Regions from separate parts of the Homo sapiens genome. Here region 1 is linked to region 2. The links come from fine-mapping of genetic effects on gene expression. A gene starts in region 2. The other region holds a variant in brackets. All regions are shown on one strand. Distances are between the middles of the regions. Region 1 overlaps CACNB4 (calcium voltage-gated channel auxiliary subunit beta 4). Region 2 holds the start of CACNB4 (calcium voltage-gated channel auxiliary subunit beta 4).

Region 1 (16,425 bases), 230 kb before region 2:
GTAGAGTAAACCCACACCTGACTTTCTATTACTCCAGTTGGCCACTGCAGCTTTCAGGCATGAAGTCTCATAGGCAGCTCCTTTCCTCTCCAGAATAGGGTTTGTGTGGTTTTTTTTTTTTAATTTAATTTTTTTGAGTCGGAGTCTCGCTCTGTCACCCAGGCTGGAGTGCAGTGGTGCAATCTTAACTCACTGCAACCTCCACCTCCCAGTTTCAAGCGATCCTCCCACCTCAGCCTCCCAAGTAGCTGGGATTGCAAGCATGTGCCACCACACATGGCTAATTTTTGTATTTTTACTACAGATGAGGTTTCACCACATTGGCCAGGCTGGTCTCAAACTCCTGACCTCAGGTGATCTACCCACCTCAGCCTTCCAAAGCACTGGGATTACAGGTGTGAGCCACCATGCTCAGCGATGTGTGTTTATTTTTGTGTTTTTGGGTTTCTGGTTTATTTAAGAATGGAGCTGCTGGATAGAAACATACAGGCATGTTTCAGAGCAATCCAAATATATGACGAGAGACAAGTCGGTGGGTTTAGGGACAGAATTCAACTTTCTAGACCAATGATTTTTGGACTAATGATGTTTGGAGGGCCCAACAACCCAGAAAGTTGAATTCCAGTCTCCTTTAGTGAAAATAAAATTTTCTAGTTCTATACAAACAAGAGACTCTTGGTTCTTCAAATCTGAAGGGATTATCATCAGATTCACACTTTTTTTTTCTGAGTTATAAAAGTACTTTTACAAAGCTATTTTCAAACACGACCAAAGTTTGAAAAAATTCAGAAAAAAACCTTTTCATGTGTTCCAATACAGGGAAAGATGCAGACAATAAAGGGCACGTTTTCTCATTTTATTTGCTAATACAAGTTAGTTTGCTAATACAAGTTATTGATTAATAAAAATACACATGCATAAAACAGAGCTCAGAAGAAGACATGCACAGCCCTAGAAAACCTTCAGTAAGACAAAATAGGAGTTTCCCTTTTCTGTGCATAGATGCTTATTATTATCAAAACCAGACACCAAACCCAAAATTCTTTTTTATAAAAGGCTCTCCAGAAAAGCAATCACATTCACAACTGAATACTATCTAGCTTATATACTTTTTTTAACTTAAAGTGGTATCCTTTCTACTTCTTTTCTTGCTATGCTGAGACCCCCTAGTCTCAGCTAGTCCCCCTAGTTTCAGCATTCCCATGTACCTTGTTTGGTATACATCTCTAAAAAGTTCCCTTGGAAAACTTTCTGTGACTTGCTGGCCAGTAGGTAAAAGACTAATAGGAGTTTAGTTCCCCAGCAGACTGGATGTAGCAGCGAATGTTCCTGAAAACTAGCAAACATCATTCCCTAAATATAGTAAATCTGAACCCCAATTGTTGCTTATTTCCACTTTAGAATTCATCCTAACTGCTGCAATCCATCGTGAGTTGTATTAGTTTTCTGTGATTTTCTGTGGAAAGATATTACTTTCAGTTATGACAGATTCATCAAAAAATAATTTGTATTTCCACGCTGGTAACGTAACAGCTGTAAGATCTGTCTATATTCTATCCTTGCTACATCCAATATGCAGCCCAGACAGTATAATAATTTTTGAAAACTTCTGGTATTAGTAGGGAAGAGTGTTCCGAAGAATGCAACAGTGCACTTTCAGGAGAATGGAAAGGCACAGGAGACCCGAGTATCTTCCTGGATCTTTGTCTTGGTAGTTGCATGAGTCATTCCATCTTTTGACCTCAGTATCCTAATCAATAAAATGGCAATAGTAGCTTTGCCATAACTATCTCATGGGGTTGCCATTAAGAGCAAATAAGGTTATATATAAAAGCGCATTCTTAAATAATTATTCATAGTGTCCTCTGTTAATAAACACATATATAATGTACACAAGGCAAACAATTATTGGAGATTTAAAGACTCGAAGGAGATAGTTTCCTTATGTCCTACTCTCAAAAGTGGGCAGTCTACCATGACCCCTCTCATTCCCAGAGTCCGTGAAATGTGGGTGAGAGAATCAGGTCAGATACACTGTACTCAAAACCTACTAATTTAAATATTCAAGTTTGACACTCAAGTGTTCAATTAATTATTACTGGTGTTTGAGTGGCTGTTTATGAGTCTGCATTTGAATAGAAAACAGTAGGAAGAATGCATAGGAGAATGAAATTGATTACGAAACGGAAGTTGCTGCTGTTCTTTTTCCATTTGTTGACTGCAATTAGAAATTATCTTCATTCTTATATGGCTTGGTTGCCTTGTGACAGCACCAATTGTTCCCATTTCTTTTTATTAATAAATACTATCGCTTTGAGTCTCCCTAAGTTGTATGTTTAGCTTCTTTTCTTTCAAATTCTTTCTCAAGCCCTTTTTTTCCCTTTATGTGTTCTTAGGCTAAAAGCATCCTTTAGCTTGAGATCCTATCTGTGTAGGTTACACGATGTTCATCTAAGATTTTTGGCCATGATCATTATCAGTTACAAATTGTCCAATAAATGTCACAGAGTTGATCTGATCCAGTTGTCAAAAGCCTAAAGTAACAACTTTTTGGGGGATTTGAAATGATTGGCATAGGTCAACAAACTGCAACTGGTTTGACTGCTGGCTGTTCAGCCTGTGAATGGTAGATTCAGCCAGCTGAACAAACCTCATCCAAATGGGTAATCCCCAATTAATATTTGTGGTGTGAAATGAAGAGAGAAGCTCCATGCCCATTGTGTATCCACTGTGTCGTCGTCAGCACAGGAATCATTGCTTCATGTAGATATTCAAAAATACAGAGGGCGCTCAGGAACTGTTTAGTATTGTGTTTTTCTTTTTCTTTCTTTCTTTCTTTTTTTTTTTTTTTATTGAGACAGAGTTTTGCTCCTATTGCCCAGGCTGGAGTGCAATGGCATGATCTTGGCTCACCGCAACCTCTGCCTCCCAGGTTCAAGTGATTTTCCTGCCTCAGCCTCCCGAGTGGCTGGAATTACAGGCACGCGCCACCACGCCTGGCTAATTTTGTATTTTTATTAGAGATGAGGTTTCTCCATGTTGGTCAGGCTGGTCTCGAACTCCCGACCTCAGGTGATCTGCCCACCTGGGCCTCCCAAAGTGCTGGGATTATAGGCATGAGCCACTGCGCCCAGCCTAGTATTCTGTTTTTCTTACATGTATTACAGTTAGGCCCCACAATAGCAGCTACAGCAATAAAATTGTATAATAAGTAGCTCTAAACTGACTCAAATAATTTCTAAGGTATCAAAAAAATCCCAAGTTTATGATTCTGCAATAGTCAAACTGTTGGACTTTCATCCAATTTGTTGAATTATTTTCTACTAAGATCTGAAAAGCAGATTAAAGAAGAAAGCCTCGTAGCCAACAGATCCCTTCTTTGTACTTTCTGAAAAATAATAGGACTTTCTCCTATTTTGTCTAACGTACTGCATTCATAGCCCATGAAACACAGAGTAGGTTTCCATTAGAACATATTGTTTATGCCGTGTCACTGTGCTAAAGCCTTCCTTGTCATTGTTCTCTTGGCTGGTTTCAATTAAAGACTATTTGTTTTTTTCTCTCCTTGTATCAATTGGTAAAACATAATGCAGCATGATGTTATAGCTCAAAACCTAACGATATTCCCCACGAAGAAGACATGTCAGAGTCAGTGTGACGCTACCAGCGAATTTCTTTCTTATCAAAGTCTCCACATACACTCAACCAAGGAACTCCTTATTGTTCATTCTGCTGCCTGGCCTCTTAATATTTGAAATCAAGTCCATTCTCTCACCCCTCACCCCTTTAATATCTACCTATCTTTCTCCTGCTGGAGAAATATATCAGATTTCTCCAGGGCTAAGTCTCTCTCTTCAGCTATTACTTTTGCTACTGCTGGGCTCTTCCTCCAGACCCTCTGCCATGTCATCAGACCCCATGAATACTTGAGATTGAAATTTGCATTCAATTTCTATTAAAACCAACTTCAGTAGTATGTGTACAGTAATGGATGCGACAATTCTACTTGATTCGAGACAAATCTCTGCTGTTACAATTAAATAAATTCCCTTTTTCTGGGCCTCAGGATTGAGGAAGAACATCAGATTCTTCATTCTTGAGGGCAAACCTTTAACAGCACTGTTGCGTATAAGTATGTTATAGACCAAAATAATCTAACACTGTCTTATGGGATGGGATTTGTTCAGATAGGGCTGTTATGGGGCCAGTGGATTCGGCACTGCTCAGAACTGCCTTAGGTAACAGCTCCACAGGTTGAAACCATGTGACTCCATACATATCTGAAGGAACTATGCACGTGCGACCAAGGCATGCTGGCTGCCTTCAATCCACAGGGACCTGCATGAGGGTTAGGGTTAAGGCCAGAGCATCAGACAGCAAGACCAAGACCAGCCCTATTAAGTTACAAAGTCAGAGTTCAGCTATTTTTTTGCAATGCTTTTTTAGAAAGTGTAATCCCAATAACCAAAAGTTTCAAACAGAAGCAGGTTGTCTATCTGATTGTGGTTATTGGAGAAATGATGAGTCTAAAAGACATTTTATGTATCCTTCCAACTCCAATGCTCTAGGATTCAGGGCTTTTAACTTATTTTCTTTGAAGCTACTTCATTATCTGCCTATTTCTTTTTTAAAGAGAGTGAAATGGAACAAATACATCTTTCTTATTAAGCCTTTGTCCAGTAGATGAATGTGACGAAGGCTATTATTGATTCAACAAATTCTATCTCCTCTTCCTCCTGGACTGCAAGAGTGCCTCCGCTGCAATTAAGTATGACCACATAACCAAGTTCTAACCAGTGAAATGTCAGTTGCGCTACCTCCAGGCCGGGCAAGCTGACTAGAGACATCGTACCTGGGCTAAGGGCCCCAAATGACAGAGGGAACAAACTTTCTGCCCAATTCTCCCCTCCCCCAACTCTATCCTCCCTCCCAGCCAAGGAACACCTGCTTCAGACTGTTAAGTGAGCAATAATAAGCTTCCATTGTGTTTGAATCACTACACATTTTGGGGTCTATTTATTAAGGCAGCCTGACCTATATACTAATGTACCTAGAAGCATTCTTATTTCTTAAACTAAAATCTGTTTACTAACTTTCTATATTGTTCCAGAAACTAATGAATATTTTACCCAATTATCCAGAAAGCTTTTATTTTAACAAATGCATACAATTTATATTTAAAGCAATACCATGCTTGTTTTTATTCTTAATATACCAATTTATTAAAATCTATCTGAAGTTTTTTTACATTTTAAAATTATTTTGTGCATTTAGTGGATTCTCATAATTTAGCAAAGAGAAAGTGAATGGCTTAATTACTGCCTTCAAAAATAAAGAATGTGATGTTTTTCTTCAATCCTACAGTAATAAACTGGATGCATTTGCCCATACTTTTTGATGCACCCCATTTAAATTTCCTACATTTCTGATAAATCTCAGGTTTTTTCATGTGGTTATTTTTACATGGACTGCATTCAGCACTGTGAAAGAGCTTAATATTTAGAATTGAGTCAATACAGGCTTTTTACCATTTCTCTGCAAAACAGAGAAACTTTCTTTAGAATTTTTCACAAAACTTAAATGATAAAATTATTTAATGGCTAATGCCTGAGCCATATTGTTGATGGATCATAGTAAAATACATTAAAAAAAGATCAATAAAATAACAAGGACATTTCTAATAAAAACAACCCACAACTATAATAAATATCCAAATAAGTACTATTCCCTACAAAATGATCACTTTGGGAGGCTTATGATTAAAATAATTCTCACTCTCTTCTTTTGAGGAAATTCAGTACTTGACATTTATGCTTTCATATGACACACACACACACACACACACACACACACACATACACAATTCCCAAATACTGCCTAGTTTGACCAGCAAGCCACTATACTCATGAGAAATATTATATATTTTAATTAATATTTTTTCATAAAAAACATTTTGGTATGAAATTATTAATAACTGAGAAAATAAAGATATATACATTTAAATAAAACAAATGGCTTATTTTTCTTCTCATGGTCCTTTCTTCACTGGGGACTCAATGTTATACTTCATATTTTCAGAGTTCTTTTATTATATTCTTCCCAAGAATACTGAGTTAACTTTTAACTAGAGAACTTCTGAAATCTCTGGAAACATAGATCTACAATTCAATTTATCACACAAGTTTGGTTAAAGGAAAATAAAAATACAAAAACATCTATATTTCTCACCTCCCATCAAACCTGTGCTTCAGGAAATCAAAGAGGGCTTTCTGCATCATGTCTGTTACCTTTGCAGAGGTGAGAAAAAAAGAATGAGGCAAACACATGCAGAGAGAGAGAGAGAAGTCAAAAGGGAGAGAGGAGGGAGGGAAGGGTACTATGAGCCAAGACCTTATTGTAGCCATTCGTCTCCTAGGGGGAGGTTACCATGGAAGGTGTTTTTCATGCTTAACCATGTGCAATTGCTAATTTCCACCCCCCTTGGTTCTCCTCCAGGGTGTTGAGGAATAAACCAGCAGTGTTCACCAGACCCTCTTCCCTCTTCCCTCTTCCCTCGTTAGGGGATAGAACTGCTGCCAGGAGACAACAGGCTGGCTTTGTACACAGGTGCCGGGTATCCTTGGCACGCCTGAGTTGTGCCTGCCTCCAGTGAGGAGCAGCTAGAGAACTGAGGCCAGCACTGGACTCAGCCTTCCTGCTAGTTTGTGTATGTTGGCGGAAATTCTCCATGCCCATGGCTGGATTTTTGTAGACCACTCTCCTGCTCATCCCTCTGACATTTCCAACTCTGAGAAAGACAAGAGAGAAAGAGAGGGGGATAGAGCCAGGATTCTTAGATCTGCCTGAAAGCGATTCATTAATTCATTCAGCAAATGTGTACTGAGTGCCTACTATGTGCCACACATTGTCCTAGCTCGATGGGAATGGTGCCCTGGAGGCTGCTCACCTTCAGAGTTTAATGTCACGTTCTACCTATTTTTTAATCCAAGCTAGCACAAAGTCAAAACAAACATCTGAAACGAAGTCTCTACTCTTTTCCTTGTCACATGGTTTTGTTTAATCTCCAAAGTTCACTAATGTTTTTAGTGGTCTTTTAAAACATGTGCCCTTTAAAATAAATAAGCAGAGAAGGATTTGGTGGCATATGCCATCATCTTAAAAACCCAGCAGGGTGAACTCTGTTTGGGCTTTAAAGGTTTGGGTTTGCTGGAAGATTGATTGTTTGTCCTCTTGTGCTGTTCATTCTCTATTACTTCTAATAATAATGAGAATGGTCAAGACAGATAAAGTCCTTTTCTTTGCATTTAATGTACAGCAAATCTTTGACCAGATCTTCCCATTGTGAATATTTTGAGGGAGGTATTTCTAAACAATGTAATACATAAAAGATGAGAAGTGTGCAAGAGAGGAAAGAAAGGGCAGAGGGCCTCATGAGCCCCACACGGTACCCCCTGCCTTCCCATGCTGAGCACTGGCTTCCATCAGGACCCACGTGGAAACAGACCCTTGAGGAGCAAGCGTCAACATGACTGTCTCCTGGGTGCTCGATCAAGAACTGAAGAGTAACAGATGATATTTGTACCTCGTAACCTTTCAGTGACGGCCCCACTAACACCACCGGACGCATTGACGGTACAACATCGTAAGGAGGAATGTGCTCCGTCTGAAAAAGATGATTCGACACGCGTGACAAGGTGAGGTTGAGCATGCCTCTCCACAGCCACAACATTCATAATTTCATAATTCTCAGGTTGAACGACAAATGATTATCAAAGTCCCCACCGAGGAGGCTCTTCCCTTATTTTATAGCCACTTGGGTCACTGAAATGGAGCATTGCAGGCATGTATATATAGGAACCTTAACAGTAGATTTAAAAAGGAAACACAACTTACCACTTTTTGCTTCTGTTTTGCTAAAAGACAATAACGAGAGCCATATCAAAATATGTAAACTCTGCAAATGACAGTACATGAGTTTAAAAGATGGAAGAATGTACCCATTTGTCCCTGTAATTATCTTCACCACCTTCCTATCGCCCACTTTGGAGAACCTGCCTTATGATTTCATTCTGGACACGTCAATTTTGAAGATGTATGAAAAACAGACAGCTTCCTCCCTGGTACAAATGACCTTATATCCTGATTTCTCACTGGGTGGGAATTGGGTACAGGAGTTGAGAGCAACACTGGAAGTTCCGGGCCAGCCAATCACCATGGGTTGTTCCCGTGCTGGACACAGCACAGTGTTGCTGGGAACAAGGTAGACAAATGCAATTTCATAAAAGGAAACAGAATAACCACTTGGGCAAAAATGACTATCACCTCAATCAATAGTTATTTTTATATTTGTTAACTCATAATTCTGCAGTCCCTTGGGCATTTTTGCCCATTTTCTAGAATATTGGCACATTTTTCCTACTATCTTGCTTCTAAATTTCAAATACATTTATAACCAGTTATTCCTCAGATAAATTTATAATGAGTTATTCCTGTTCTTTCCTGTTTGTAATAGCTAAAGTGTTCAATGTCCTGAATGTCCAACAAATGGGAACGAAGCAAAATATACTCAATAACTGATTTAAAGCGATTCTGTGGACATCCAAGCAGCTCCAGTCTAGTTGGGTACAACTCAGAAACCTGGTTTGGTTCAGTGTCCTGTAGATAAGAGGGCTTCACATGAACAAGGACCCAGACACTTAGAACCACTCCAGAACCAATCCAGTTGCCTCCAGTTTTGGTAGGCCAGAATAGGGCCTTGGACTTGCCATTCCAAATTGGTAATACAATTGGAATTGGTAACTAGGACACTGGATGCCCTAATGCAACAGCAGTTCTAGGCCAGAATGAAATTAGCCGATAGGAATCAGGGAATGTGGTAGAAGAAAAATTCCTACATGAATAACTCCATCGTTTCCAAATGTACCACAATTCCCTATTAGGCCACCAATATCTCTTCATTACCATTAATTCCAGGGCTTGGCTGTCTGCTGTCCAAATGTAAACGAGGCCCTCCCTCCTTTGGGCCCTGCCTTACTCTCTGCTTCAA[C/T]CCTTCCAGCTCGGGCTGTACTAATACATCCTGAAATTCCACATGGAGACTGAAAACAGCATTTTCTTGAGAGTCTGCATCATTTTTTTCCTTTTTTTATTGGCCTTCACCATCTTAAACTCTGTCCGTTCCTTAGGTAAAATAATGAATTTTTTGAATATCAATTTACACAATGGACAGTTATTAACACTGAGGGGTAAATAAGATTTTTCAAAATTATATTCTAATGACATGAATTTTTAATACCATTTTAAATGAAATCAAATTACCATAGAAAACAAATGAGAAATGAAATATTAATTAGAGAATCTTTAAATTAAGCCTTCAAATTGTTTCCAAATTAGCAAAACTACTTGCATGTGTGTTCAAATATTTTTAAAAGGAATACAGTGTATGAAAAAGAGTTTAACTACAACCCTCACCTGTTGATGTGGGAGTTGCTCGGAATGTCCCAGATACCATTTCTCCAAGACTTGAAGAAGAATTTCCACTTGATTTCCTAGGATATAGAAAAGGAACTAAAGACTCACTCCCCAGATTCTTTGAAAATAGAACTTGAGAGTACAAAGCTTTCTTTGGCCCTCATCCTATTAAATAATTCAAAACACACCAAATTCTGCTATAAAGAATTTCAAGAATCTATCCAAATGTTTTCTTTGACCTCATTTCTAAGAGAATGTGGAGAACTAGCCGAGACCTGGAATACTCTGCAAAAGCATCTCTTCTAGTTACTCAGTGCGGAAATCAGACAAAACCATCACTGACGGGAATGGTCTTATGAACTGCTTGTTAACCTAACACCAGGCACCAATGTGCCAGTCAGATGTCAAACACAGCTCAAAACAAGCAGTTAGACCTGGAGAAACCATTTCTTCTTACAAGATGATTATGTGGGCATCAGAATTAAGAACTGATCGTAGGGAATTGGTCACGAAAAATATTATTTATTTAAATAGAAGATCCTCAACTCTGGTCTCCTCAGGTGTGCTCTGGAAGCTTCCCTGAAGCCCACAAATGCCGTCGGGAGCTGCCACCTTCCTACTTTTTGTCTTTGACAAAAAAGTTATATGGCCCATGACTGTAACAATTAAGAAATAATAATAACAATAAAACTTTGAAAATGATAATAATTCAGTTATTTTATTCAACAAATATGGATTGTACATCCCTGTTTTGGAAAGTAGAAATAAGACAGCGGCATTGGGGAGACAAAATCCTTTCCCTTATTGAGTCATATACTAGTAGGACATATCAGTACAGGTTGAATATCCCTTATCCAAAATGCCTGGGAGCAGAAATGTTTTGGATTTCCACTGTTTTCAGATTTCGGAAATTTGCACTATATACTTAGTTGAACATCCCTAATCCAAATGTCTGAAATCGAAAATGCTCTAATGAGCATCTCCTTTGAGCATCATGTCAGTCCTCAAAAAGTTTCAAATTTTGGAACATTCTGGATTTCAGCTTTTCAGATTATGGATGCTCAGCTTATACCAAACAAGATAGATAGGTAAATATATAATATTTCTGAGAGTAATAAGTGCAACAGAGAAAACTAAGTCAGGGAAGGGATGGGAAGTACAGGGAAGGGGAGTGGGTACAATTTTAAATACAATTGGCAGGAAAGGGGTCACTGAAAGGGTGATACCTAACAAAGATATAAAGCAGATGGAGTGGCCGGGTGTAAGTGTGAAGAAAAAGGTTCCAGTAAGAAAAAACAGCAAATGCAAAGACCCCAAGACAGGAACACATGCTCCCCATGTGTCTAAAAAGGGGCATGGAAGACAAAATTTTAGAAAAAAAGGGATAATATGGTTTGGATCTGTGTCCCCCGCAAATCTCATGTTGAGATGTAATCCCCAGTGATGGAGGTGGGGACTGGTGAGAGGTGACTGGACCACGGGGGCAGTCCCTCATGAATGGTTTGGCACCATCTCCTTGTGCTGTTCCTGTGACAATGAGTGAGTTATAGTGAGATCTGATTGTTTAAAAGTGTGTGGCACCTCCCCGTCTCTTCCTCCTGCTCCAGGCATGTAAGACACCTGCTCCCGCTTGGCCTTCTGCTACCAGTAAAATCTCCCTGAGACCTCCCCAGAAGCAGATGCTGCCATGCTTCCTTTACAGTCTACAGAACCATGACAATTAAAGCTCTTTTCCTCATAAGTTCTCCAATTTTATAGAAGTGTGAGAACAGGCCGGGCACAGTGGCTCACACCTGTAATCCCAACACTTTGGGAGTCCGAGGCGGGCAAATCACGAGGTCAAGAGTTCGAGACCAGCCTGACCAATATGATGAAACCCCACCTCTACCAAAAATACAAAAATTAGCCAGGCACGATGGTGCGTGCCTGTAACCCCAGCTACTCAGGAGGTTGAGTCAGGAGAATCGCTTGAACCTAGGAGGCAGAGGTTGCAGTGAGCCAAAATTGCGCCACTGCACTCCAGCCTGGGCGACAGAGCGAGACTCTAAGAAAAAAAAAAAAAAAGAAGAAGTATGAGAACAGACTAATACAAGGGACAAGAGGGATTAATATTAATAATAGTATTGGCAAGTTATATGCTAAAAAAGATTGGTAATTAAAAGTGGGGTAACTATACTTTTGTGATCTCCTATTACAGTTGGTGCGGTTCTTATTATGACAAAGGTAGGCGCCTAAAGAACACAGGAGTTTTTTGAAATAGAAAAGCATTCAACAGAAAACAGAGGTTGAGGGTCAAGAGAAAGAGCTGCTTCTATTTTAGAACTTTCAAAAAAGTGTAACATATCAAATCAATGCTTCAGTGCAGGCTGCGACACAATACATGCAGACTCAGGATGATTTGGTTTCTCTTCTGTCAAGCTGTGCTTGTGTTCCTGGGACCTTTAAATACCTGCACTCTGAGATCTACATGCCTACTTCAGTAGCTCACTAGAGGTTGATTCACCTGAAGCTGTCTTCACCCAAATACCAGGAGACAAGAGATGCCACAAAAAGCCTGGGGTGGAGAAGGTACTATCAGTGCCGGGACCTGCACATACCATCACATTTTTTTTTTTTATTGATCATTCTTGGGTGTTTCTCGCAGAGGGGGATTTGGCAGGGTCACAGGACAATAGTGGAGGGAAGGTCAGCAGATAAACAAGTGAACAAAGGTCTCTGGTTTTCCTAGGCAGAGTGTGTGTGTCCCTGGGTACTTGAGATTAGGGAGTGGTGATGACTCTTAACGAGCATGCTGCCTTCAAGCATCTGTTTAACAAAGCACATCTTGCACCGCCCTTAATCCATTTAACCCTGAGTGGACACAGCACATGTTTCAGAGAGCACAGGGTTGGGGGTAAGGTCATAGATCAACAGGATCCCAAGGCAGAAGAATTTTTCTTAGTACAGAACAAAATGAAAAGTCTCCCATGTCTACTTCTTTCTACACAGACACAGCAACCATCCGATTTCTCAATCTTTTCCCCACCTTTCCCCCTTTTCTATTCCACAAAACCGCCATCGTCATCATGGCCCATTCTCAATGAGCTGTTGGGTACACCTCCCAGACGGGGTGGTGGCCGGGCAGAGGGGCTCCTCACTTCCCAGTAGGGGCGGCCGGGCAGAGGCGCCCCTCACCTCCCGGACGGGGCGGCTCGCCAGGCAGGGGGCTGACCCCTCCACCTCCCTCCCGGACGGGGCGGCTGGCCGGGTGGGGGGCTGACCCCCCCACCTCCCTCCCGGACGGGCGGCTGGCCGGGCAGAGGGGCTCCTCACTTCCCAGTAGGGGCGGCCGGGCAGAGGCACCCCTCACCTCCCGGACGGGGCGGCTGGCCGGGCAGGGGGCTGACCCCCCACCTCCCTCCCGGACGGGGCGTCTCGCCTGGCGGGGGGCTGACCCCCCCATCTCCCTCCCGGACGGGGCGGCTGGCCGGGCAGAGGGGCTCCTCACTTCCCAGTAGGGGCGGCCGGGCAGAGGCACCCCTCACCTCCCGGACGGGGCGGCTGGCCGGGCGGGGGGCTGACTCCCCCACCTCCCTCCCGGACGGGGCGGCTGGCCGGGCAGAGGGGCTCCTCACTTCCCAGTAGGGGCGATACCATCACATTTTGTGCCCACTTAAGGGAGAGTCTCTGTAAGCGAACCAAGAGGAGCCATACTGCTGGTTCAGGTCAGCTCCCACTCACTGTGTGGAGAAAGAATGCCCGAAGTGACTCTCCTAGAGGAAAGCTTGGGTTCCAAGGAGGGCTTGCTGAGGCCACAGAAAACAGTCTCTGCCATGGAATTCATATGGTCTCCAGTGGTGTTAGGCTTCAGCATGCACAGAGGATAGAGAACTATCTGAAACTCTTCTGTGTCAGTTTCAGAAACACTTTGCACACAGAAAAGTATCTTCTACTTTGAAAGTATACACCCTTGAAAATATCACCCAATTTTCTGACCAAAAAAAAGTGCATAGAAAAGATGGGAACGTACCCTCCGTGAAAACGTCCTCTTTTTTGTTCTTGCTGGATCCGTATGTTCTCCAATCTGAGTGGACTTGGAATGAAGCCAATTTCACAGCCCTCTTTCACCAGCCTTCCTATCCACCAATCATTGTTATATTTCTGGAATTCAGAAATAAAATTGCTATCAATAGTAATTCACTTATCTTCACGTTGTTTATTAATCTTAGGGGACAAGAAGAATAAAATGCTATTTATATGATATGATATGCTATATTTTATATAAACTATATTTTATATGTATATGTGTGTATACTATATTTTATATACTATACTATAGACTATATTTTATATGTATATGTGTGTATACTATATTTTATATACTATACTATATACTATATTTTATATAAACTATATTATACTATACATTTTATATAAACTATATTGTATATGTGTATATATCTATATATCTATACTATATTATACTATACATTTTATATAAACTATATTGTATATGTATATATGTATATATCTATATATACTATATTTATATAAACTATATTGTGTATGTATATATGTGTATATATACCTATACTATATATTAATATAAAGTATATTGTATATGTATGTGTGCATATATAGATCTATATATACACATAGATAGCTATATATACACATAGATATCTATATATACACATAGATATCTATATATACATATATATCTATATATACATACTATATATATATATATCTGAGGTAGATGCATAGACTAAAGCAGGGTTCTGCAAACTTTTTCTGTAAAGGTCCAAGTAGTAAATATTTCAGGCTTTGCAGACCACGTGGTCTCTGTTACAATTAGTTGAATCTGCTGTCCTTGTGTGAAAGCAGCCACAGACAAACATCAACAAGTGAGCATGGCTGTGTTTCAATAAAACTTTTCTTTACAAAAAAGAGAGTGGGTCAGACTGGACCTGTGGGCTATAGTTTGTGAATCCCTGGACTAATGTCTGGTCCTAACCTTTGGATTCTTTTGGTCTTTGTCAAGAAGCTCTAACCAATTCTTAAAGAACATATTTTATAAGGATAAATATGCACCAATGTAACTGGAACTCTGGAAGGCAAGACAGATATGTCTGAGATGAAATACATTTAATAGTCCATAATTTGTCAAAAGCTTTCAGTTAAAAATTCCACGATACTATCTGTGGTCTAATCTCACTGGGGAAGAGTCATGATCTTTCAAATATAGATTTGCAAATTAAGGTCCATCTTACTACTTGAAGAAAAAGATGCCTACACTTACAAAGTCTGAGCGTATTATATATTTGTATGTGAAATTTTGCAAATAACTTCCAAATGCTCTGAAGCCCAAGAGGAACTCCAGAATTTCCATTTAAGTTAAGTTCCATGACAAGCAAACTCAAGTCTATGAGAAGGCTTCAACCAGTGTGGGGTGAGAGTCTGTCAATGTGGGCTTATTTGGTGGATTGGCAAAATTGCATTTCTAATTATACATTTGCTGAATTATACAGCAGAAAGCAATTTAGTTCAAGCTCCCTGCCTCAAGGAAAGGTTTCAGCTAGGTCACTTCTACAAAATAGATACCAGCTCTATTGTTTAAACTCTCTGGAGATGATTCTAAAAACTTCCTTTACTGTTTTTATCAGTGTTGGGCAAGATAATTCTCTCCTATTTTGACCCAAAATATATATATTTATAAACATATACTTTTTTCAAAATGTAACAATGATATGTAGTATATTTTGCTGAGCTCATAGAAAAGCGAAATTTATATATATGTCTGTGTGTGTATATATATATATATGATTCTGATACATTATGAAGGAGGAATGGAAGGTTTCATTGAATAATCACACCATGAAGTTCTGGGTAAACTTTAAATTATTCTGAGTAACAGCTTCACACTCATGAGAAATATGTTCTGGTAAGAATTTGGCCTTTGTTATGCACACAGCTTCTCCATGCATACTATATGAGTGGCATAAAGTATGAGATTGCATTGAAATAAATGTAAATTGAGGGCTGGCCATGGTGGCACATTCCTGTAATCCCAGCACTTTTGGAGTCTGAGGTAAGAGGATCAGTTGAGGCCAGGAGTTTGAAATCAGCCAGGGTAACATAGCAAGACCCTGTCTACACACACACACACACACACACACACACACAGTTAGCTGGGTATAGTAGTGCACCTGTAGTCCTAGTGTACTACACAATACTACACCATTAGCTAGCTATACAATTAGTGTAGTGTACTACACAATTAGCTAGTATAGTAGTGTACTACTAATTACCTAGTGTACTACACAATTAGCTAGTGTAGTGCACTATACTAGACTACACAATTAGCTGGGTGTAGTAGTGCACCTGTAGTCCTAGCTACTTGGGAGGCTGAGGCTGAGGTGGGAGGATCACTTGAGCCCAGGAGTTCAAGACAGCAGTGAGCTGTGATTGCATCACTGCACTCCAGCCTGGAAAACAGAGCGAGAACCTGTCTCCAAAAAAATAAAAAAGAAAAGAAAAGAAAAAAATGTGAATTGACCTGATATAAAACCTTGAACAATCTAGGTCTTAGTTGTTTTTCCCCACTTTCCTGTCTTTTAGTATAACAGGCCTAAAATAATAGGTCTGTTTATTTTGGAATTAACAAAGGGCAAAGGGACCCTTTTAGAATCTTGGGTGCATAGGTCTGGAATTTAAATTTTACTGTGTTGAGGACAAAACAGACCATGAGTCATAGTTTCCTAGGGCTTAAGTTACTTCCTGAAATGAAGTGGCATAGCCCACTGGAACACTCATTTGTTAAATGGCACCCAAATGACTTTAAAGGGCTTGCTGAAATGGTTAATTCAACTTCCCAAAATGTTTTAACTTAGTTCTAGGAAACAGCGAAAGCACAGTGAGAATCTGACTCAGGAGGAATGAATTTTTTGAGTTACTAGGGAGAAAGTCACTATGTAA
Region 2 (16,425 bases):
TTCAGCTTACATTTCCACACAGCTTCCTATAATTTTCTAGAAAAATTAAAACTTGAAGATGGGCGCAGTGGCTCATGCCTATAATCCCAGCACTTTGGGAGGCCGAGGCGGGCGGATCACCTGAGCTCAGGAGTTCGAGACCAGCCTGACCAACATGGTCTTGTCTAAAAATACAAAATTAGCCAGGCGTGGTGACACATGCCTGTAATCCCAGCTACTTGGGAGGCTGAGGCAGGAGAATTGCTTGAACCTGGGAGGCAGAGGTTGCAGTGAGCCAAGATCGCGCCACTGCACTCCAGCCTGGGCAACAACAGCAAAACTCCATCTCAAAAAAAAAAAAGAAAAAAAGAAAGATAAAAACTTGAATCAGAACTTACCTAAGTTTCAATAAAATTGTACCATTCTAAAACTAAAGGATAAATATTTATTCTACAGAAATGAAATTTAGGGTTGGGCATGATGGCTCACACCTGTAATCCTAGCACTTTGGGTGGCTGAGGCAGGTGGATCACTTGAAGTCAGGCATTCAAGACCAGCCTGGCCAACATGGTGAAGCCCAATCTCTACTAAAAATAGAAAAGTTAGCCAGGCATGTTGGCAGTCCCGTTATCCCAGATACTCGGGAGGCTGACGCAGGAGAATTGCTTGAACCTGGGAGGGAGAGATTTCAGTGAGCTGAGATTGGGCCACTGCACTCCAGCCTGAGCAACAGAGTGTGACTCCATCTCAAAAAAAAAAAAAAGTGAAATTTAGGCAATTCTATCCATCAGGAACAGAGACTCAGACATAAGTAAAAATGACTGGTTAACGGGTTAGCTACCCAGTAATTAGATTTCTTTCTTCATAAGCTCAGTTCAATTTATTTAAGCCCCAAAACAAGAAGAAGCACAGTTTGCCAAGAGCGACAGAGTTCTTTCTTGCTCTATCAGAGCAAGAGAAGATTCATTGCACAAAAAACTCACAAAGGAAATAAGCGCGAACTTTTTAAAGTTCATTGTAACTGGATTACACCATTTAGCAAGGAAGGTCTACTTACAGAGCAAGTAAAAACTTCCAACTTTGCAGATGAAAATGATTCAATACTGTCTACCATGCAGCTAAAATATAAAAATGGTTGTGCCCCAGCTTAGCCAACATGGTGAAACCTGGTCTCTACTAAAAATACAAAAATTAGCCAGATGCGGTGGCATGCACCTGTAGTCCCAGCTACTTGGGAGGCTGAGGCAGGACCAGCCTCCCAAGAACCCAGGAGGCAGAGCTTGCAGTGAGCCGAGATTGTACCACTGCACTCCAGCCTGGGCAAGAGTGAGACTCCTTCTCAAACAAAAATAAACATAAACGTAACTGGTTGTGCCCCTCCTTGGCTGTTTCCCTCAGATCCACTCCTCCCACTCCGCTGCTCTACTTTCCATCTCAGAGGGCCACTGCCTGCAGCTTGTTTCCCAGAATCCCAGGTCAGTGGGCTTCCAGAGAGGCTCAGCCAATGGGAGGAACTGGTAGAAGACTGGAGGGTGGAAGGAATAATCCTACAAGAAGCTAACCAAGCAAACAAAAATTCCATCCATGATAGAATTGGGAAGAAACCACAGTCTCTAAATTCTTCAACTGATGCTATGGTTCTTCACAGCAACCACGCAGATTCAGAACGTTTCCAGGATCTGAGAGGAATAAGCTCCATATGTCCTTGCATGTATCCACACCTGTGTGAGTTTGTGTGTTTGGCTTGTTTATTCAGGGATAAAGTGGATTGTGGTGAAAAAAACAGTAGAGTCTGAGCCAGGATCCCTTGTGTCTGTTCTACCATTATCTATTGGTATGACCTTTATGTCCTTGGGCCTATGTTTTATTCATCTGAAAAAAGAGACTGAAGTATTTTCTTTCTGCAATCTCTTCCTGTTCTAAAATTCTGTGATTCTAAGTTTATGGATAAATTTTGCATATATACATGCCTGTAGGCATATGATTATTCTTAGAGCTATGCGCAAAGCATATACCTTCTGTTGATGAATTTGCATTTCATCAGAGAAACATATCTATAACTGGTGCTCAAATTATAACCCCAAGAATTTGTTTGCCAACTTGTTTTATTCTAGTATCAACCTAAAAATCTGAATGTTTTAGATCTCTAAATACAGTGTGGTTCATTGAATTATTGTAACGATCATCTGATTAGCATACCTTAAAAAATACGAGGTTCCTTGTTCCAAGGTAGATGGTTCCAACAATGGCTGCAACCATATCTTCCATTCCATATGCTCTTTTTTTTTAATGAAATATTATTATACATTATTCTGTAACTTACTTTTTTCACTTGAATGCATTTCAAATGAATGTCTTAAATGCATTTCCATATCATTACACGCAGGGTGGCTTTATTTTTTTCTTTAATGGCTGAATAGTACTCTGTAGTATAATATATAGTAGTCCACCCTTAACCGTGGGGGATACATTCCAAGACCCCAGTGGATGCCTGGAACTACAGATAGTAACAAACCATATATACATTTACATATATATACATATATATATATAATGTTTTTTCCTATACATATATACCTAAGATGAAGTCTAATTTGTAAATTAGGCACAGTAAGAGATTAATAACAACTAATAATAAAACAGAACAATGTTAACAATATGTCATAATAAAAGTTATATGAAATGTAGTCTCTTTCTCATTCTCAAAATAGCTACTGTACTGTACTCACCTACATTCAGACCTCAGTTGACCGCAGGTAACTGAAACCAGGGAATGCAAAAATATGGATGAGGGCCCCAATGTACATTATTTGCTCATTTACTGACTGCTGCATACATATATTGTTTCTAGTTTCTCTGCTCAGTGTGATGTTTGCTGTGGATTTTAGTAGATAATTTTTATTAGATTTAGGGAGCTGCCTTCTCTTCTTTTTTTAAAATCACGTGCCTCTAGATATGCTCTATTCTTAACTTACAAAATTTATCAAATACTTTTTTGGCACCTACTGAAATCAACATATATTTTTCTTTAATTTGTTATATAAATTGAATAATCTTTACATTCCTGTTTATACTATTGGCACTGAATTTGACTTGCTGTTTTTTGGTGTGTGTGTGTGTGTGTGTGTGTGTGTGTATTTTTACCCATATGCTCTTTTATAACGTGACCTTGTTGCACCCCATCAAAAGATAGTCTGTTTTCTCTTTTGTTGCAACTGAGCAGGCTCTTGGACCTGTTTTGACTTGAGTTTGCAAGACAAGTGATACAGTGTAGCTTTCAAAACTGGGTCTTAGGAGAGCTGTGGCTTCAGCCTTCACTTCTTGGAACCTAGCCACCATATTATCCGGGAGCTCAAGCAACCATGTTGAGAGGCCCAGGTGGAGAAAAACTGAGCCGCTGCCAAAAGCTCTAGTTGAGTTCTCAGCCAGCAGCCAGCACCAACTGCCAACCACATGTGTGAGGCCACTCTGGACCTTCCAGCCATCCCAGTGCCCATATAACATCATACAATGCAGAACTGTCTGGTTAGTACACAGAAATAAAAAATTGTTGTTGTTTCAAGCCACAGAGTTTTGGGGGAGGTTAGGAGGCAATTTCTCCCCACTAAACAAAGCATTTAATGTTGGAGCAGAACCTCATGCCTAAAATATATCAAGTTAGTTCTCCATCCATCCACTGCTTCATTCATTCAAGTGTGTGTTTATTGAACATATACTATGCTAGATGCTGAGGACACAAAGATCAAATGCAGACATGTCCCTGTCCTTGTGGAACTCATACGGATGGGGAGACAGAATGTAACAGAGAAATCTAAGTACATGTTAAATAAAAGCGGTGGTGCTACTGAAAACTGGCACAAGGCCCTCTGGGAGCCCCTTGTTGGGGAACTGACTTTATCAGGAAGGTTAGAAGAGGAAGTGAAGACTAAACCCCCAGATCTCAGGGAAGATTAAAAGTTAACTAGGCAGAAGGAAGGACAACAACCTGCCACACAGAGGGCTCAGCATATGCAAAGGACCAGTGGCAAGAGGGAAGACAGTGTGTTCAAACTCTGTGTCCAGAGCTAAGAGATCATGGCTCAAGATGAGGCTGGAAGCAGGCAGGGGCCAGGCCAGGTATGACTTTGCTGGCCTCATAAGAGCAGACTTAACAAGGAAAAGTCAACAAACTATTCCCACTCTGATCAGATTTTCTCTTCAAACCCCAGTGGGAAGAGGACTAACTTGGAGTACTCAGCCGTATAAACTGTATGTGTAGTGACACCCATGGGTAGATATACTTATGGATATATAATAGATACTCGGGGTACATGGTCATTGAGCCCGCCCTCTCGTTCCTTGTTACATGTCACCGTACTGTTTGTAGACATCTCTGTCTCCATTGCTAGATTATAAAAATCTTTGAGTACAGGGGCTGTGTCTCATCCATCTTTTCATTCCTCCCCTACAATATCTAACATAGTGCTAGGCACATAGCAAATACTTAAGTGTTTCCTAAAACTTTAAAATATGACTAGATAATCCATTCATAAATAGCCTGTAAGAAGGGCTCTCCTGAAAGAAAATTCTATGGCCTCATTTGGAAAGCCACTCCAATGATGGCAACACTCTTAGGAAGGTCTTGCTGTAAAACATCATTCCTTTCTAATTTGGGCCAGTTCTTGAGTTTCATCCCCAATGAAGAGTGAGAACACTTCATCACATTTCCAAAGAAAGCCTTTGTGTGTACTTTGAAGATCATTTCTGGGTCACTCCTAGCTTTCTTTCCTTTCAGCGGCAAAGTACTTCATCTTCTCACCTTTCCTCAAAGAAGCCATTTATTTGCTCCCTGGATTCATTCCAAAACCTCCATCCCTCCTAAATGGTGGAAGCCAGAAATCTTGTAGACCAGAAACAAGGTCAAAGATTCCTGAGGGGCTTCATGAGCAGTCCTCAGAGTGGAAGCAGGCTCTCTTTCTCAGTCTGCTTGTTTTCCAGCCAATTCAAATGTTCATGTGTGTGCATGCACACATATGTGCATATATAGTCTCAGAAACACTGAAACTTTTTAACAAGCTCAAAGAACAAATATTGTCTTATTGGGTGAGTTGCCAACTGCCTTCTCTGCTTCACCAACAGCCCAGTCTTCCCCATCCAATGTAACACATCGATTTTTTTTTTAATGAAAGCTTTTCTCCATATTTTTGTAAATAATATGATAAAGAAACTAGCAATATATATATTTTTTGGTATTCCACTATCTTCTTCAAAGGCATCACAAAGACTGTGAAACAGCACCAAGAAATTTCATCACTCCAATGTATCAAGAATTCAAATATCAATAAATCACTGGTCATTCTACAAATAATGAGACTCTGTTTTTGTTTGTTTGTTTGTTTGATGGAGTCCTGCTCTGTCGCCCGGCTGGAATGCTGTGGAGCAATACTGGCTCACTGCAACCTCCACCGCCTAGGTTCAAAAAATTCTCCTGCCTCAGCCTCCCGAGTAGCTGGGATTACAAGCACACACCACCACGCTTGGCAAATTTCTTTGTATTTTTAGTACAGTCGGGGTTTCACCATGCTACCAGGCTGGTTTGAAACTCCTGACCTCAAGTGATCCGCCCACCTCAGCCTCCCAAAGTGCTGGGATTACAGGCGTGAGCCACTGTGACCAGCCCAAGGCTCTGTTAACGTAAGCAGCTGTTATGCTTTCATAAAAAATATTTTTTGGCATTGGGGTGATTTCAATTTTATCCGAAAGTTATTGTTAAACTGCATTTGTAATCATTTTCCTTATCTCATCAAAGAAATGTAAATCCCTCAGTTATTTTTATTGTAGCCAATACAGAAGTCTGTATGATGTCATTTGAATGAGATCATGTGTAGTATACTCAGTGAGTTGTAAAGTGCTCATAAAAATTAAGTAGCCCGGGCATGGTGGCTCACGCCTGTAATCCCAGCACTTTGGGAGGATGAGGTGGGCAGATCACGAGGTCAGGAGATAAAGACCATCCTGGCTAACACGGTGAAACCCTGTCTCCACTAAAAATACAAAAAAGTTAGCCAGGCGTGATGGCGGGTGCCTGTAGTCTCAGCTACTCGGGAGGCTGAGGCAGGAGAATGGCGTGAACCCAGGAGGCAGAGCTTGCAGTAAGCAGAGACTGCGTCACTGCACCCCAGCCTGGGCGACAGAGCAAGACTCCGTCTGAAAAAAGAAAAAAATTAAGTACTATTTTTGTGCCGAAAAATAAGATTGTGTATATAATACAATTACAATTAACTCCTGAATTTAAATTAGACCATTTAATCAAACCAATGAATTCCCATTTCATAGATGAAATATATTTATTTAAAAAAATCTACTTTGCTTTAAATTATTCCCAAAATTATTTAGCATGCAATACTTTTAACATTTCTTAAGCCAGCACATAGCAGCACGCTTTACAAGAACTTATATATACATCATCTCAATCAGTTACGGGCATAAATTGAGAAAAGAGTAAGAATATTAGAATATTATTTTGTTTGTGCTTGGAAGGAAGAATAAAGCATTAGTGCAGTTATGTAGATGAACTCAAAAGTTTTAGTCAAACAGCTTATGGAAAGAACTGCTGTGTAATTAGTATTTCCAAGAATTTGCAACAATGAAACACCACTAAAAATAGGCACCTACAAAATAAACACCAGCAAGACCTCAAACAGTTGCATAACAGAAAAATGTTTTTAAGATAAACAATATGTTTGCCTTATCAAATACATAATCTAAATACTGCAAAGGGGATAGAATGCACTTTTAGAATGAATTCGGAATCCAAAATGCATTTATTTCCATAATGTACATGCTTAGTGCTCGCTGAATTAAATGGTAGTCAAAATTTCCGCTTCTGCAGAAAGTGAAATTCTGCATAATAAATATCATCTAAATATGCTTTATAGACCCTTTTAGGAGAGGTCTGAGTTCAATTTTGATATCAATTCCTCGTTGATATGTTTAAATTGATGATAATCACTAAAGAAACACCAGAGCTGCCATCATAGGTTAGAAAACACATTACACAATACTGAGTGACCTAGAGGGAAAAGAACTTCTCAAGGTCACTCCAGCAGCCCACAGGAAGACCTGGGATAAAAGCCTCTTGGTGCGATGACCAATGTCTTCCTAGGTCACCCGAAACCTAGGACACACCCCGACAATTTCTGTTCCAAAGAAAGATCAAGGTGACTCATTGCATGATCTCTCTAGCACCCAGCAGCCAGGGGTGGTTTCATTAACAGCACATGGACAGTTGGAAAACTGAGGACCAATTTCCTGTGCCAAGGTGAAAGGCACCTAAGCATTGAGCATTACCAGCGATCCGGAGATCCCGAGCACAGACAATTCGCACTAGAACCACGCAGGAGAAAGCAAGCACTAAGAAAACAAACACGAAGTGAAGGCGCACCCAGACCCGGAGCTGAGTGCTGGCCTTCGTTAATTCCTATTTAACCAGATACAGCTGTCTTTCCCTAACTAAGCGAATCCAAGAAGCGGTCCTAAAGTGAGAGTAAACTTTCTGCTCAGTGTCTTTCTTTTGACCGGAGCTTGACGATCTCTCCCAAGATCCAGACAGATAAGAGTATTCAAATTAGGACAAAACAGAAGAAACCACTAAATCTCAACTCGAATCAAACCAGGTCCCCGGCCCCGAGGGGTCTGGTTACTCTAGGTCGAGTTATACGAATTAAAGACATTTCTCCACGCACCAAAGATACAACCAGACATATTTCCAGCTCTTAAATTCAACGTCCCTGACTTAAGCCAGGTCCCCACCGAACTGTCCACACACATGCACAAACTAACTTCCCGGGGCGGTGCGGAGACGCCGGGACGCGAAGACGTCAAGAGCCCAGGCTAGAGGGAGAGGGACTGAGCCCGAGCACCGGCCGAGGCCGGGAAGAGACGCGCGCGGGCTTGACCCGCAGCTCCCGCACGTGTGGGCCACGGCCGGCTCCAGGACCCCCGCGCCGCGCGCTCGGCCTCCTCCCCATCCTGGTCTCCCGCCTCCTTCTCATACCTGTCTGAGGATGAAGCTGGTCGAAGTGGTGCTGCCATCGGATCTTTTCAACCTGCTCCTCCGGGTTGTGGTGCCTCGGGCCACCTGGACTCGACACACGGGGGCCAGAGAGAAGCCGGTGAGGACCGCAGCGCAGAGCGGGGCGACCACCCCCGGCTGGAGTCCGCCTCCGGACCCGCTCCCTGGGGTCCCCTAGAGCCCGCACCCAAGTCTCCTCCGCGACTCCCAAATACAGCCCCCACCCCCACCCACCCACTGCAAGCCTCGACTGCTGAAAAGATGCTCGAGAAGAGCAGCCCGCAAGCACCCACCACATCCATTAACAAAGACTCTCAGGGTGCGGGGTCCGAGTCCCCGGCATCCGCTGGGGGAGGCTGCGGGCTCCGGAGCGGGAGCGCAGAGACCCGAAGGAGGGTGAGGAGGAGGAGGAAGAGAAGGAGGAGAAAGAGGAGGAGCGGGAGGAGAAAGGGACGTGGAGGAGGGGTGGGGGGAGCGGGGCCGCCGACTCCCGGGACTGGGGCCCCGCACGCCCGGCACGAAGGCGGGGCGCGCTAGGGCGGCGGAGGAGGTGTGAGGAAGGAAGAGGAGGAAGAGGAGAAGGGGGAGGAGGGGGCGGTACCTGCGAGGTGGGGGAGTGCGGCCCGTCCGCGGTCCCGTTCTTGGCGTAGGAGGAGGAGGACATCGTTCAGAGCCGCCGCATGGCCAGCCCGTGTGCGGTGGGCGGAGGGGGCTGGCCCCCGAGGCTGGGCTGCGGACGGAGGGGGAGGGCGCAGGACTTCCCCACCCGGCTCCAGGACCCGCGCCGGCGCCCAGGCTCCCTGCCCGCACTTCGGAGAGCGCGGCACCTTAAAGGGACCGAGGCGCTTCCCCCGCGCTCGCGGCGGGGTCCCGGGGAGGGGGCTTCTCGGAAACTCGCCTACCCGAGCGGATTGGGAGAAGCGCTCTCCCACCTAGCAAGCGCTTTACATCAGAGCTTCCAGAGGATGAAGGGAGGGGGAAATCTGGGATGGGGGTGGCAAGATTAAAATAGTCTGCACAGTTTAAAATGAGACAAAGGTGGCACGGTTCATGAATCAGGACTTGGGGACGGAAGCTGGTGCAGTGTGGCGGGAATGGGAAGAACCGAGCGGGTGTGTGTGTGTGTGTTTGCTGCACTGGAATTTTAAAAGGGCAAGAGCAGAGCCACCTTCCGCGACTTCACTCATCAGCCTAATGTGTAAGGCATGGGGTTTTGTGGCTTGCTTTTCGTCCGTGTTTTTGTATTGCTTTGGCAATTCTGTCCTTAGAGCTGCGAGTCACACACATCCAGGCAGCTGTGAGAAACCCAGCCAGCCTGAGTCTGACGGGAGATGCTGCCCCGCCAAAGACCAGTATGTCCTACGGAGTTTTGAAGGTCATGTTAGACCTGCTAAGAAGCAAGAGTTGGTCACTGTGCCTCCCATTTCTATGCGAATGGATATTTTCAAGGGGGAGAAACTCATCCTTGCAACCATACACAACGTTTGCCATTGGTTTCCTCCTGTAAATACATACAAGAGATTAATTTGTGATCAAATTAAAAGAGAGGGATTGCGGAAAGGAAGAATAAGTGCGAGGTATTGACAGAGGAATAAGAAGAGGGAAGAAAAGTATATGCAAATTCAAAAATAAAGAGACTCCGTTTAAATTAAAATATACTTACTATCTCAAATCGCTAAATCAGCTTGCATTCTAGGACTTTATGTTTATGGACACAACTACCATGCTTGTTTTAATAATTGCTTGGCTTTATTGAGGTCCTGGTTATATCTTACCATCCACCAGACACTTCCTTTCCATTCCTAATCCCTTCACTTAATCCAAACCTCTGTAACAATCTTATAACTAATGTCCTTGCCTCCAGGCTTCCTGGTGCATGTGCACGTATGCACATGCACACATACACACGCAGAGATTTCATTCCATCTACACACTACAGGCAAAACCATTTTCCTAAAATATCTTGCCCAAGTCACTCTTCTCTAAGATAAAGTCCAAACTCCATGGTCCAACAACTCAGCCTCTCCTGCATTTCTGATCACTCTCCATCTCATTTCTCCATCTTGATCTCTCTATACAAACCTTCCAGCAAGCAGGCAGGTCTAGTCATCAATACCCAAGTATTCCAAATACAATCACATTTGAGCTCTTCTGCTTTGGAATGCCTCCTTGGAATATGCCCTCCCAACAACCTACACACCCGGCTGAATCCTACCTTTCTTCTAAATGGGACTCAGCTCACGCTTCCTCCACAGAAATCCTATCTGACTACTCCAGTCCCACATAATTCTTGTGCTTCTGAAAAACTGGAGCATGTATTCTCTGGGCACTTAGAATAGGCTGCCTTAGCTTATTAGTTTGTTAGTTCTGTTTTTGTGAAAATCTCCTAATTTTCAGAATTTTTAGCGGTTTATCTTCTATTCCTATACCTTCCATATAGTAGATACTCCATGAATTTATGGGGAATGGAGGTCTAACCATGCAGGACTCCCTACTTTAGTTACTGTCAACCCAATCCGTATTTAGTTCTGAGCCATTTTCATAGTTGATACGTGTGTGCATATTAAATTACTATGTGAGCACTGGACTTTGAATTGTGTGGTTTTCCACTGTCCACATTCTCACTGACTTTAAGTTATTGAAACAGAACCCACAGAGGCATAACAACATGAGAAGCCCTGTACACCCAGCTCAAAGCAAAACTGGTGAAAATTATATGTTTTATATATAAGCAACCATTTAAATTTCTAAAAATGGTCCTAAAGGTGCACAACAAATGAAGGAACATTTATTCAAGAAAACCTACTGAAACCCAGTAAGAAAAGTGAGCTTGAGGTATTTGAACCAAGACCTACTCACTCTTTTCATGCTTCCAACTCAGAGAGGGCTCCACGCTATACTGGTGCAGCCAAGAACACAGGGCTCCCTCACCCTTCAGCTCCCAGTTGGAGGGTCAGCTTCCTAGGAGGGACAAAACATCAGCATTTGTCATCCTCCCCGCAGCTACCTGTTGTTGAGACTAAGTTCTAAGCAAGTATGGCAGAGGTGGGGGCTCCCTTCTTCTGCCCAGTTGTACCTGGAGGCTGTACCTTGGCCACAGCAGCACTGAGTGTACTTGGGCCTTGATCACCTTTGCTTCTGGCTCATCGAGAAAGAAGTCAGGAAACGTGGGACTGCTTTGAGTGCTTCTGCCAGAAACATTCAGCATCTAACATGGTGATGTCACTCAGAGAGAGGTGCATCATTGTCCCTACCTCTGACACCAGAGTGGAAAAAATGATGTTGAACCCTGACCTTACATCAAGGATCCCCAACCCCCAGGCCACAGACTAGTACCAGTCTGTGGCCTGTTAGGAACTGGGCCACACAGCAGGGAGTGAGCGGTGGGGCAAGTGAGCATTATGGCCTGAGCTCCGCCTCTTGTCAGATCAGGGGTGGCATTACATTCTCATAGGAGTGCAAACTCTATTGTGAACTGCACATGCACGGGATCTAGGTTGTGGGCTTCTTATGAGAATCTAATGCCTGATTATCTGTCACTATCTCCCCTCACCCCCAGATGAGACCATCTAGTTACAGGAAAACAAGCTCAAGTCTCCCACTGATTCTACATTATGGTGAGTATGTAATAATAATAGAAATAAAGTGCACAATAAATGTAATGTGCTTGAATCATCCCCAAACCATCCTCCATCCCCGTCCCATAGAAAATTGATCTTCCATGAAACCAATCCCTAGTGCCAAAAAGGCTGGGGATTGCTGCCTTATATCATATACAAAAATTAACTCAAAATTAATCAAAGACTTAAAAGAGTTAAAAATATAAAACTATTAGAAGATAAGGGTAAATCTTCATGACCTTAGATTTGGCAATAAATTCTTAGACATGACACCAAAAGCATGAGTAGGAAAAGAAAAAAATGTTAGACAGGCATGGTGGTGCGTGTCTGTGGTCCCAGCTAACCAAGAAGCTGAGGTGGGAGGATTGCTTAAGCCCAGGAGGTCGAGGCTGCAGTGAGCTGTGACACGTCACTGTACTCCAGCCTGGGCACCACAGTGAGACTCCATCTCCGGCTCAAGCAATACCTCAGTCTTCTGAGTAGCTGAGACCACAGGTGGGCACTACCATGCCTAGCTAATTTTTTATTTTTTATAGAATTGTAGTCTCCTTGTGTTGTCCAGGCTGGTCTTGAACTCCTGGACTCAAGCCATCCTCCCACCTTGGCCACCCAAAGTGCTGGGATTACAGGTGTGAGCCACTGCACCCTGCCTAATTGTATACTTTGAGTGGGTGAATTGTATGGTATGTGAATTATATGTCAATAAAGTTATTATTTTTTTAATCTTCAGATCTTACAGAAAAATTAACTCAAAATGGATTACAGACCTAAGTGTAAATGCAAAACTACGAAACCTCTAGGGGAAAACAGAAGACAAAATCTCCATGAGTCTGAGTTTGGTGTTGAGATTTTACACCACCACCAAAAGCATGATGCAAGAAAATAAAAATTGATATTCTGGGTTTAATTAAAATTAAAAATTTCTGCTCTGTGAAAAACTCTGTTAAGATAATAAGAAGACAAAGAACTTGTAAACAAAATATACAAATAACTCTTAAAACTCAACTATAATAGGCCAGGCTCGGTGGCTCACGCTTGTAATCCCAGCACTTTGGGAGGCCGAGGCGGGTGGATCACAAGGTCAGGAGATTGAAACCATCCTGGCTAACATGGTGAAACCCTGTCTCTACTGAAAATACAAAAAATTAGCCGGGCATGGTGGCAGGCGCCTGTGGTCCCAGCTACTCGGGAGGCTGAGGCAGGAGAATGGCATGAAGCTGGAAGGCAAAGCTTGCAGTGAGCCAAGATCACGTCACTGCACTGCTGCCTGGGTGACAGAGCGAGACTCCGTCTCAAAAAAAAAAAAAAAAAAAATTCAACTATAATAAACAATTCAAATAAAAAATGGACAAAAGTAGCAGGGGGTTGTGGCTCATGCCTGTAACCCCAGCACTTTGGGAGGCTGAGGAGAGAATTGCCCAAGAAGCCGGGAGATGAAGACCATTCTGAGCAACAAAGCAGGACTACATCTCTACAAAAAAAAAAAAAAATTAGCCATGCGCAGTGGGTGGCATGCGCCTGTAATCCTAGCTATTTGAGAGGCTGAGGTGGGAGGATCCCTTGAGCCCAGGAGTTTGAGGCTGCTGGGAGCCATCATCTCACTACTCTACTCCAGCCTGAGACACAGGAGACCCATCTCTAAAATTTGAAAAAAAAAATGTATTTAAATGAACAAAATATTTTAATGGATACTTTACCAAAGAAGACACATAGATAGCAAATAGGCACATGACAAGATGTTCAACATCATTTACTTTAGGGGAAATGCAGATTAAAACAACAATGCAATGCCACTATACACCTATAAGGATGACTAAACATAAAAATGATAATAGCAATGGCTAGTAAGGATAAGGAGCAATAAGAACTCTCATTCATTGCTGATGGTAATGCTAAATGGTACAGCCACTTAGGAACATACCTGAGCAGTTTCTTAGCAGTTTCTTAACAAGCTAAACCATCTTATACAATCCAGCAATCGAGAACCTAAGTATTTATGCAACTGATCTGAAAATTTGCATCCACACAAAGACCATGCAAATGTTTAATAAGTTTATTCACAATAACCCAACACTGGAAGCAACCAAGGTGTCCATTAATGGGTAAATGAATAAACAAAGCATGGTCTAATCATATGATAAAATGATAAAATACTATTCAGCTATCAAGTCATAAAAAAAAGGGATAAACCTTAAATGCATATTGGTAAATGAAAAAAGCCAGTCTGAGTCTATATACTATTTGGGATTCTAGAAAAGGCAAAGCTATAAAGACAATAAACAGATCAGTGGTTCTGGAGGGGGTGATGAAGACGGCAGGTTGAATAGGTGGAGCATGGGGGGTTTTTAAGGGTGATGAAACTGTTCTGTATGATACTGTAATGATGGATACCTAACATGGATCTGTCAAAACTATAGAACTTCACAGCATAAAGTAAGCCTTAATGTGGGTGAATTAAAAAGAAAATCATTGAAGATGTTGAGAGATCAGGATGGAATGCAGAATGTGACAAAAGAATATAACTGTATTACAAATATATTAAACAATGTCACTGAAGAATGTGGAGAAAATGGCTGCTGGCCTAAGTAACCCTGGAAATGAGTGGCGCCTGTAAGACTAAAAGGAACTGTGCATAAGCATTGTACTACGGTTGATACATTGTTTCTGAGGAGTGTGGGTTAACTATTCTGAAATCACTATATGTATACACTGGAACTGAACAATTCATTACATAGATGGCAAATGATGGGGGCCAGGTTTCCCACTGTTGGAGTGGAAGGTTACATAGAAGCAAGGGGAGGAGACTAAAATGATCCATGTGGTAATGGACTGGAGTCAGAGAATCTGCATGAACTCGAGGGTAACTTAAAAGATACAGATGGTTATATACAGAAATATTTATAGGGCCCCATGCCAAGGGTCACGCCTGTAATCCCAGCACTTTGGGAGGCTGAGGCAGGAGGCTCAATTAAGCCGAGTAATTCAAGGCCAGACTGGGCAACATAGTGAGACCTATCCCTACAAAAAACTTTTTTCTAAATTACCAGGGCATGGTGGTGTGTGCCTGTAGTCCCAGCAAATTGGGAGGCTGAGGTGAGAGATCACTAGAGCCCGGGAGGTTGAGGCTGCAGTGAGCTGTGATTGTGCCACTGCACTCCAGCCTGGGCAAAAGAGTGAGACCCTGTCTCAAAAAAAAAAAAAAAAAAAAAAAAAATTAACTTTTTAAAAAGAAATATTTGCCGGACACGGTGGCTCATGCCTGTAATCCTAGCACTTTGGGAGGCTGAGGCGGGTGGATCACCTAAGGTCAGCAGTTGCAGACCAGTCTGGCCAACATGGCGAAACCATGTCTCTACTAAAAATACAAAAATTAGCTGGGCGTGGTGGCTCTTGCCTGTAATCACAGCTATTCGGGAGGCTGAGGCACAAGAATCACTTGAACCCAGGAGGTAGAGGTTGCAGTGAGTCAAAATCATGCCACTGCACTCAAGCCTCGGCGACAGAGTAGGACTCCGTCTCAAAAAAAAAAAAAAAAAAAAAAAGACCCGGCGCGGTGGCTCAAGCCTGTAATCCCAGCACTTTGGGAGGCCGAGGCGGGCGGATCACAAGGTCAGGAGATGGAGACCATCCTGGCTAACACAGTGAAACTCCGTCTCTACTAAAAATACAGAAAATGAGCCCGGCGTGGTGGCGGGAGCCTGTAGTCCCAGCTACTGGGGAGGCTGAGGTAGGAGAACGGCGTGAACCTGGGAGGCGGAGCTTGCAGTGAGCTGAGATTGCGCCACGGCACTCCAGCCTGGGCGACAGAGCAAGACTCCGTCTCAAAAAAAAGGAAAAGAAAATAAATATTTATAGATAGCTGTATATACATGAGTTAGCATACATATATATATTCTCTTGCTTTCAGCTGAGGGCCTAGAAGCAATGACCCCTTAGTAGCAACAAACACATCTAGTACCAAGACGTTGGTTTCTAATACTATCCTTTAATAGAAGAAATCAGGGCAACCTTGGACAAATGGCTAATTCTAGGACTGGGGCAGGAAATATACAAGAGGAGTCTGGAGCATCTTAATAGTGTCAGAAAGTAAGGTAAGTGCTTTAAAAAAGAACCCCAGAATCAAAACCACAATGATGGGTATGTCAAAGGGCAATAGGAGCAAACTGAAAGAGCTCCTAATGGCCAAAGCTCGAACAATTTGAGTAATAAAAGTAGTATTGAATTAAAACCCAAAGTATAAAAGAAATACCCATGAGTTCATAGTGATAAAAATAAATGATCAAACAAATAAATACGTGGGAGAAAAGAGACAAACCTCCCATGTGGAAAATTCCACATAATTTATGTAGAAACTCTACCCTCAAGAAAGAGAAGAATAACTTCTCACCCTGTAAAGTGTGGGCTGCATATAGTGACTTCCTTCCAAAGAGTATAGCAGGAAAGGGAGGAGTGCAGAAACTCCACAAACGCTGCCTGAGCCAGGTGATCAAGATCAACATCAACAGCAATGTCGGGGTGATAGTATGTGCCCTTGATAGAATGCGACGAGAATCGCACTTCTGGGGTGAAAATCCACAACCTCAGCCTAATCATGAGGAAAATGTCAGACAAATCCCAATTGAGAACATTCTACAAAATATATGACTAGTACTCCTCAAAATTGTCAAGGTCATCAAAAACAAGGAAAGTCTGAGAAACTGTCAGAGCCAAAAGGAGCCTAAGGGGATATGACTAAATGTGATGTATACCCTGGATGGGATCCTGGAACAGAAA

What was found. PIP is the estimated chance that this variant, and not a neighbour inherited with it, causes the effect.
Region 1: its variant is fine-mapped to the expression of CACNB4 in testis (GTEx, PIP above 0.99).

What each region holds. Positions count from the first base shown.
Region 1 is chr2:151,862,949-151,879,373 of GRCh38, forward strand. It overlaps CACNB4 (calcium voltage-gated channel auxiliary subunit beta 4), which reads right to left. Exons shown (of 14, transcript NM_000726.5): 5 at 13,478-13,608; 6 at 9,469-9,545; 7 at 7,894-7,913; 8 at 7,583-7,663; 9 at 6,229-6,287. Among named protein-coding and RNA genes, the nearest start is that of ARL5A, 43 kb to the left of the region's middle. RefSeq lists an enhancer at 11,999-12,672. The variant C/T (reference allele first, on the strand shown) is at 9,047.
Region 2 is chr2:152,090,316-152,106,740 of GRCh38, forward strand. It overlaps CACNB4 (calcium voltage-gated channel auxiliary subunit beta 4), which reads right to left and starts at 8,729. Exons shown (of 14, transcript NM_000726.5): 1 at 8,634-8,729; 2 at 8,015-8,098. The coding sequence starts at 8,696. RefSeq lists a silencer at 8,638-8,927.